Regions from separate parts of the Homo sapiens genome. Here region 1 is linked to region 2. Evidence: fine-mapped expression QTL. A gene starts in region 2. The other region holds a variant in brackets. All regions are shown on one strand. Distances are from middle to middle. Region 1 overlaps OAS2 (2'-5'-oligoadenylate synthetase 2). Region 2 holds the start of OAS2 (2'-5'-oligoadenylate synthetase 2).

What was found. PIP is the estimated chance that this variant, and not a neighbour inherited with it, causes the effect.
Region 1: its variant is fine-mapped to the expression of OAS2 in whole blood (TOPMed, PIP above 0.99).

What each region holds. Positions count from the first base shown.
Region 1 is chr12:113,006,641-113,009,388 of GRCh38, reverse strand. OAS2 (2'-5'-oligoadenylate synthetase 2) reads right to left here. Exons shown (of 10, transcript NM_002535.3): 9 at 1,446-1,684; 10 at 1-302. The coding sequence ends at 134. Among named protein-coding and RNA genes, the nearest start is that of OAS2, 29 kb to the right of the region's middle. RefSeq lists an enhancer at 1,454-2,653. The variant A/G (reference allele first, on the strand shown) is at 1,382.
Region 2 is chr12:112,977,227-112,980,245 of GRCh38, reverse strand. It overlaps OAS2 (2'-5'-oligoadenylate synthetase 2), which reads right to left and starts at 1,727. Exons shown (of 10, transcript NM_002535.3): 1 at 1,461-1,727. The coding sequence starts at 1,637. RefSeq lists enhancers at 563-712, 823-902, 1,073-1,152, 1,373-2,182.

The sequences.
Region 1 (2,748 bases), 29 kb before region 2:
GGGCTGACCAGCTGTTTAAGCTCCTGTGAGCTGGGTTTCCTTTATTTGTGTCTGAGTTAATTTCAGGTTGCTACAGTAGGAGAAGTTCTTTGATTCAAGCCTGTTACAGGGCTATTTCCAGACAACGCCTCCTTTAGATGACTTTTACCGGCACTTTCCAAGGTGGTATTGGGTTTCCAGTCCCATCCTTGAAGCAGGGAGAGGATAACCATTCCTTTGCTTCTTTTGCCAGAAGATGCCAACACCAACGGTCCCCTCCACCCACGTCACCTGTGGGTTCGGCTGGGTCCAAGATCACAGGCCTGAATGAGAGGTTAGAAGGCATTAGGAGATTCCAAATCCCAGTGACTTCAGAATTTGGGGTCCATCCTATAATACTTTCAGCAATAAGACAATGTGTTCTTACAGCTTAGATGTCAGCAACTCAAATTTACTAGTAGGGTTCAAAGTAACTTTCTAGAGGCCGCGTGCAGTGGCTCATGCCTGTAATCCCAGCACTTTGGGAGGCTGAAGTGGGAGGATCACTTGAGGGCCAGGAGTTCGAGAACATCCTGGCCAACATGCAGAAACCCCATCTCTACTAAAAATACAAAAATTAGCTGGGCGTGGTGGTGCGCACCTGTAGTCCCAGCTACTTCGGAGGCTGAGGCAGGAGAACCAGCTTGAACCCGGGAGGCAGAGGTTGCAGTGAGCTGAGATTGTGCCACTGCACTCCAGCCTGGGTGACAGAGTGAGGCTCTGTCTCAAAAACAAAAACAAAAGCCAAAACCAAAGCAACTTCCTAGAATTAAATTGTATTTGCCAAAAGCGTTTTGAAAGCTGTTAATTGCTATACTCATGAAGGCATAATGAAGGCATAGTCTAAATATCTCCTCCTTGCTATGTCAGCTAAAATATGATACATAATTTAATCAAATACAATGTTGCCAAGAACCCAGGGTAGGCAACCCACCGGGGGTCTCCTTCTCTCTTACTTCTCCTCTATTCTTTTTCAACGCTCCTTTATTTTCTCTCTTTCCTTTCCTCTGGTTTCCATTGTTTTTGTCCCTTGCTGGTGGCCCTAAGCAGATGGATATGATTTCTTACTATTCTTGAAGGTCTGAAAGAGTAGATAAACCCTAACCCAATAAAAACCCTGCAGGATAAATCGGCCCGTGAATGATAGCGTTAATTCTTAGGGACACACTTCCAACTCTAACACCTCTTAGATGAAAGCAGCTCAGGGACGTGGTATCTTGAACCTTCCTTCTCTATTTTTTCTGAACAGCATTTTCTCCTGCCCCTGCTAGGTTTTATCCCTGGAGACTGTGACAGGTTCTGTTGGCTAGCACTTTCCCCCGTCATGCAAGGAATGAATCGTGACCCCAGCAGAGGAAAATCC[A/G]GGTTGCTGAGACAGTGTTCAAGGGAATCAGGTTAAGAAAAGTACGGGGCTAGGGTGAAGGCACCTGGTTTTCTGCAACTGGCTCAGTAGAAACTTCCTCACGGTCTCATCTTCAAAGTTGTAATTGACCTTCCAGAAGATGCAGAGCTGCTGATATTGTGTGACCAGCTCCAGGACTGTCCGGAAACCTTCTGCAGTGTCAAAATCCGGCACTCCACTCCCCTGCTCCCAGGCATAGATGGTGAGCAGCTCCAAGGCATACTTTGGGGGCAAAGACCCCTTTGGCTTCAGTTTCCTTTCACACTAGGTAAGAGTGGGAACATCAGACGAACTGGTTAGCCTAGGAGCTCAGTGAGAGCCGCACAGGGACCACAGCAAGGCAACTGAGTCACAGTGTCGTGCTGGTGTGCTCACACTCTGCAGCTTGGATGTCTAAATTGTACAGCCTACAGGAGTCCACCTGGCAGCAGCACATTTGAGTTTCTTTGTTGTGCTTTTGACCATATATGCCTTCCTAGGACAATAACATAGCTACAGTTTACTAGAAACCCACTGCATGCCAGCTATGGGCCCAGGCATTTACCCACATCATTCCTAATCTTCCCCACAATGCAGGCAGCATGACCTGCATTTTAGATGAAGACTTTGAAGCTGCGGGAAGTGGAGTGACTCACTCAAGGTCACGCCACAGCCCCAAGTCTTCTGACACGCCATGCCAGCTCTCTGATTTTCTGGGATGAAAACTACAGAGTTTGGTCTTGGTTTCACATTTCAGGGAGCTGGACACAGAAAGGAGGCATCTCAGGAAGAGCTGATATCGTGCTTGATGTTTACTGTCATGAGGATGTTCAGAAGCTACTTTGTGTGCAAGTGAGGGGAAACTGGGTAGAGACTAGGGATGCTGCTCAGCACCCTACAGTGCATGAATCTGGGGTTACCTGCCTGAGGATCACTTGTAGTAGGGGCTCAGGGGCTGACCAGTTGTTCAAGCTCCTGTGAGCTGGGTGTATAGAAAATGCAGCCCCGGTTCCACCTACAGCTTCAACCTGCCTTCTGAGAGAGAGCATGTGCGCCGGGAAGCAGAAAAGTCCTATTGGCAATGTGTGGGCATGTGAATCCCAGCTTCCACCCACCCTCTGTAGGCAAGGTCACTTGGATTCCTGCAGAATTCTTTGGCCAGTGTGAGGGCAAAGTAAACCACATGTAGCAGCTTTGATGGGCAGAAGCCATCAACGCCTGACCCAAATGAATAGGGTTAGTGATGGGAACGTCGTAAAGATATCCAGTGGGCAGATTCTCCAAAGTGGCTCAGCCCTCAGCATGGGAGATTGTGGGCAACAGGGCTTAATGTTCATGGCTTACTGGTA
Region 2 (3,019 bases):
ACAAATAAATGATCAATGTTTGAGGTGATGGATATCCTAACTACCCTGATCATTTCACATTGTATCCATGTGTCCAAATATCACATGTACCCCATATAAATATGCACAATTATGTAAAAATAAAAAAACACAGTAGAATGGACAAATGTGGAATATTCACATAATGGAATTGACACAACAATGAAAAGATAAACAACTGTACCCCACAACATAAATTTCATAAACATCATAGGTCAGAGAAACCACGCACTAAAGCACACAGAGCCCATGATGCCATTTATGTAGGGTTCACCCATGCATCCTGGTTTACATTCCCAGCTTTCACACCAAGAGTCCCACATCCCAGGAAACACCCCAATCTTGGATGAACTGGGATAGTTGGTCACCCTATAATTGTAAAACGTTTAAAAACAGGCAAAACGTGTCTATGCTGTTAGAAGTCAGGAGATTGCCTACCTGGGTTTGGAGGTGCTGACTGGATCGGGGGCCCAGGGCTCTGGGGGGCTGAGAATGTTTTGTTTCTGGATCTGGGTGGGGGTTACACAGTTACATTGTTTGTGGCTACCTATCAAGCTGGACACTTTGATCTGGGCACTTTTTCTGTTTTACTTCCATGAGGAAAAAAAAATTGAGAGGCAGGATAGTGTAGTGGTTAAACATGCATGCCCTCAAGCCAATTACCCAGGCTTAAAATCCCAGTTCTGACAATAGCTATTAACCAAACTTGCCTTAGCTTGCTGGCCTGGGCCAGGGCTGGGGACACCACGTGTCTAGATTTCTTTATTGAGGCACTAGCGGATGTGTGCAAGGGGTAGAGACCAAAAAGTGTGGCAGCAGCAGAGAAGGGACGTCAGCAGCTCAGGAGGCTAAGAGGATAGTATTGGGCCATCAGGACCCCCACGCCCCCAATTCTAGGGTCCTGGCATCTCCCCAGTCCCCCTTCCTCCCCAGAGGTCCAGAATTTTCAGCCTCAGTCCTGAGATTTGTGTCCACAAAACCAAATATTTCTAACTGATAAAAGCCACTCCTTCTTGCTGCGGAGAAACCACAAGGCAACCTGGGTAGTTTGAACAAAGTTCTCTAGCCTCCCTAAGTTTACTCCTCTGTACTGTGGAGAGGATAGAAGAAAATCGCAGTGAGTAATCACAGTGAATTCACTGAGCACTGCCAGTCTTTTGCTAAGAACATGATGTGCTCAAGCCTTACGATACTCTGAAGTGGGTATTATGCCTCTCCCCATTTTACAGAGTCAGAGACTGAGGCACAGAGAGGTTAAGTAGCCTGCCCAGTGTCACACAGCTCTGGAGCAAGCGCCTGCTCCAGAGCCTGAGACTCCTACACCACATCCCACCCAAGTGTGGGCCTCGCACATAATAGGCACCCAGCACCCAGTAGCTCGGCCTTGCTGCCGCCGTGGAATCTCCTGCCTCCCAGAGACCCAACCTCAGCCCTGGACTCACTATGGCCACTCCCTGCACCAGGGGGAACTGTTCGGGTTCCTGCAGGACGTCACAGATGGTGTTCACCATCTCGTCGATCAGTGTCTGACATTCTTCGTAGGGCTTCAGGTATTCCTGGATAAACCAACCCAGCTTCTGAGCAGGCACCGAGGACAGCTGGGACTCCCCATTTCCCATTGCTCTCAGCTGGCTGCCGGCAAGACAGTGAATGGTAGGATGGGAGGCAGAGGAATTCTTGCTGCTGCCCAGAGCCAGGAAACTGAAACTGAAGTCTAGAGGCCTCTCTCCACCCACTGCAGCGAGCTTACCAACTCTTGTATCCGGGACAGGGAAACAAAACTAACTTAAGCTCAGAGGCTCTGCCCTGCCCCTTGCAGTGAGTTTACCAACTCCTGCATCCGGGGCAGGGAAACCAAAACTAACTTAAGCTCAAATGCTCTTCCCCGCCCCTTGCAGCAAGGTTTACTGACTCCTGCACCCCAGCAGGGAAACCAAAACTGACTCAAGCTCAGAGGCTTTCCCTGTCCCCGGCAGCGTGGTGACCAGCCCTTCAGGGGCTCCCCAAAACTTGAGGTTAACTAAACAGCCTCTAGAACCCCATTGTGAGGGCTTCATACCTGCTAGATGTCTGTCCTTGAGCACATCGCCTGCCCTCTTCGCGCCTCAATTCCCCCATCTGTAAGCTGGGGGAAAATGGCAGCTCTCTCGTAGGATTAGCTTGATGATTAAATAATACCTGCAAAGTGCTTAGAAGCAGGGGCGCACAGGTCATCTTTTGAGGCTCTGTCCCTTTCCCCCTGTTCTCAGTGGCCAGGGAACTCACATTCAGGGAAAGCGGCAGAGAGGAAAAAGAGACCCAGAGAGGGAACTGACTTGCTCAGGGACACACAGCAAAGCAGGGACCTAGCTGGACTCAGGTTTTGGTCTGCTTCTGGGTAAACACAGGCCCCCGTGTGGTCAGCGGGTGGGAACCTCTGTGTGTCCAGTTTCTCAGCACACTTGTGGACAGCCGAGGGACCGTATGAGGCACTTGTCCAGCCTCGCAAGGGCAAGAAAACACACCCCAAGTGTGTGAGCCAGAAAGGAGACAGACATGCAACTCCTGTGCCCAGAGCTTTGAAAACAAAACTCGCAGAGGACTCCCAGCCAGCTGCCTTGGCCCAGCAATAATAATTCACAGAGAAGGCAAAAATCTCCAAGATGTAGTGGGGGACCAGGGCCCTTCCATACTGGGATGGTTAATTTTATGTGTCAAGTTGGCTGAGCCCAGGTACCCAGATATTTGGTCAAACATTATCCTAGATCTTTTTGTGAAGGTATTTTTTAAAGATAAGATTAACATTTACATTGGTAGACTTTTTTTTTGAGTAAAGTGGATTATCATCTGTAAGGTGGTGGGCCTGATTCAATCAGTTGAAGGCCTTAATAGACTAAAGACTGAGCTCCCCCAAGGAAGAGGGAATTCGGCTGCAGTGCCTTGGCCTCCACTTGCAGCAGCAACTCCTTCCTGGGTCTCCCACCTGCCAGTCTACCCTGCCGATTTTGGATTTGCCAGCCTC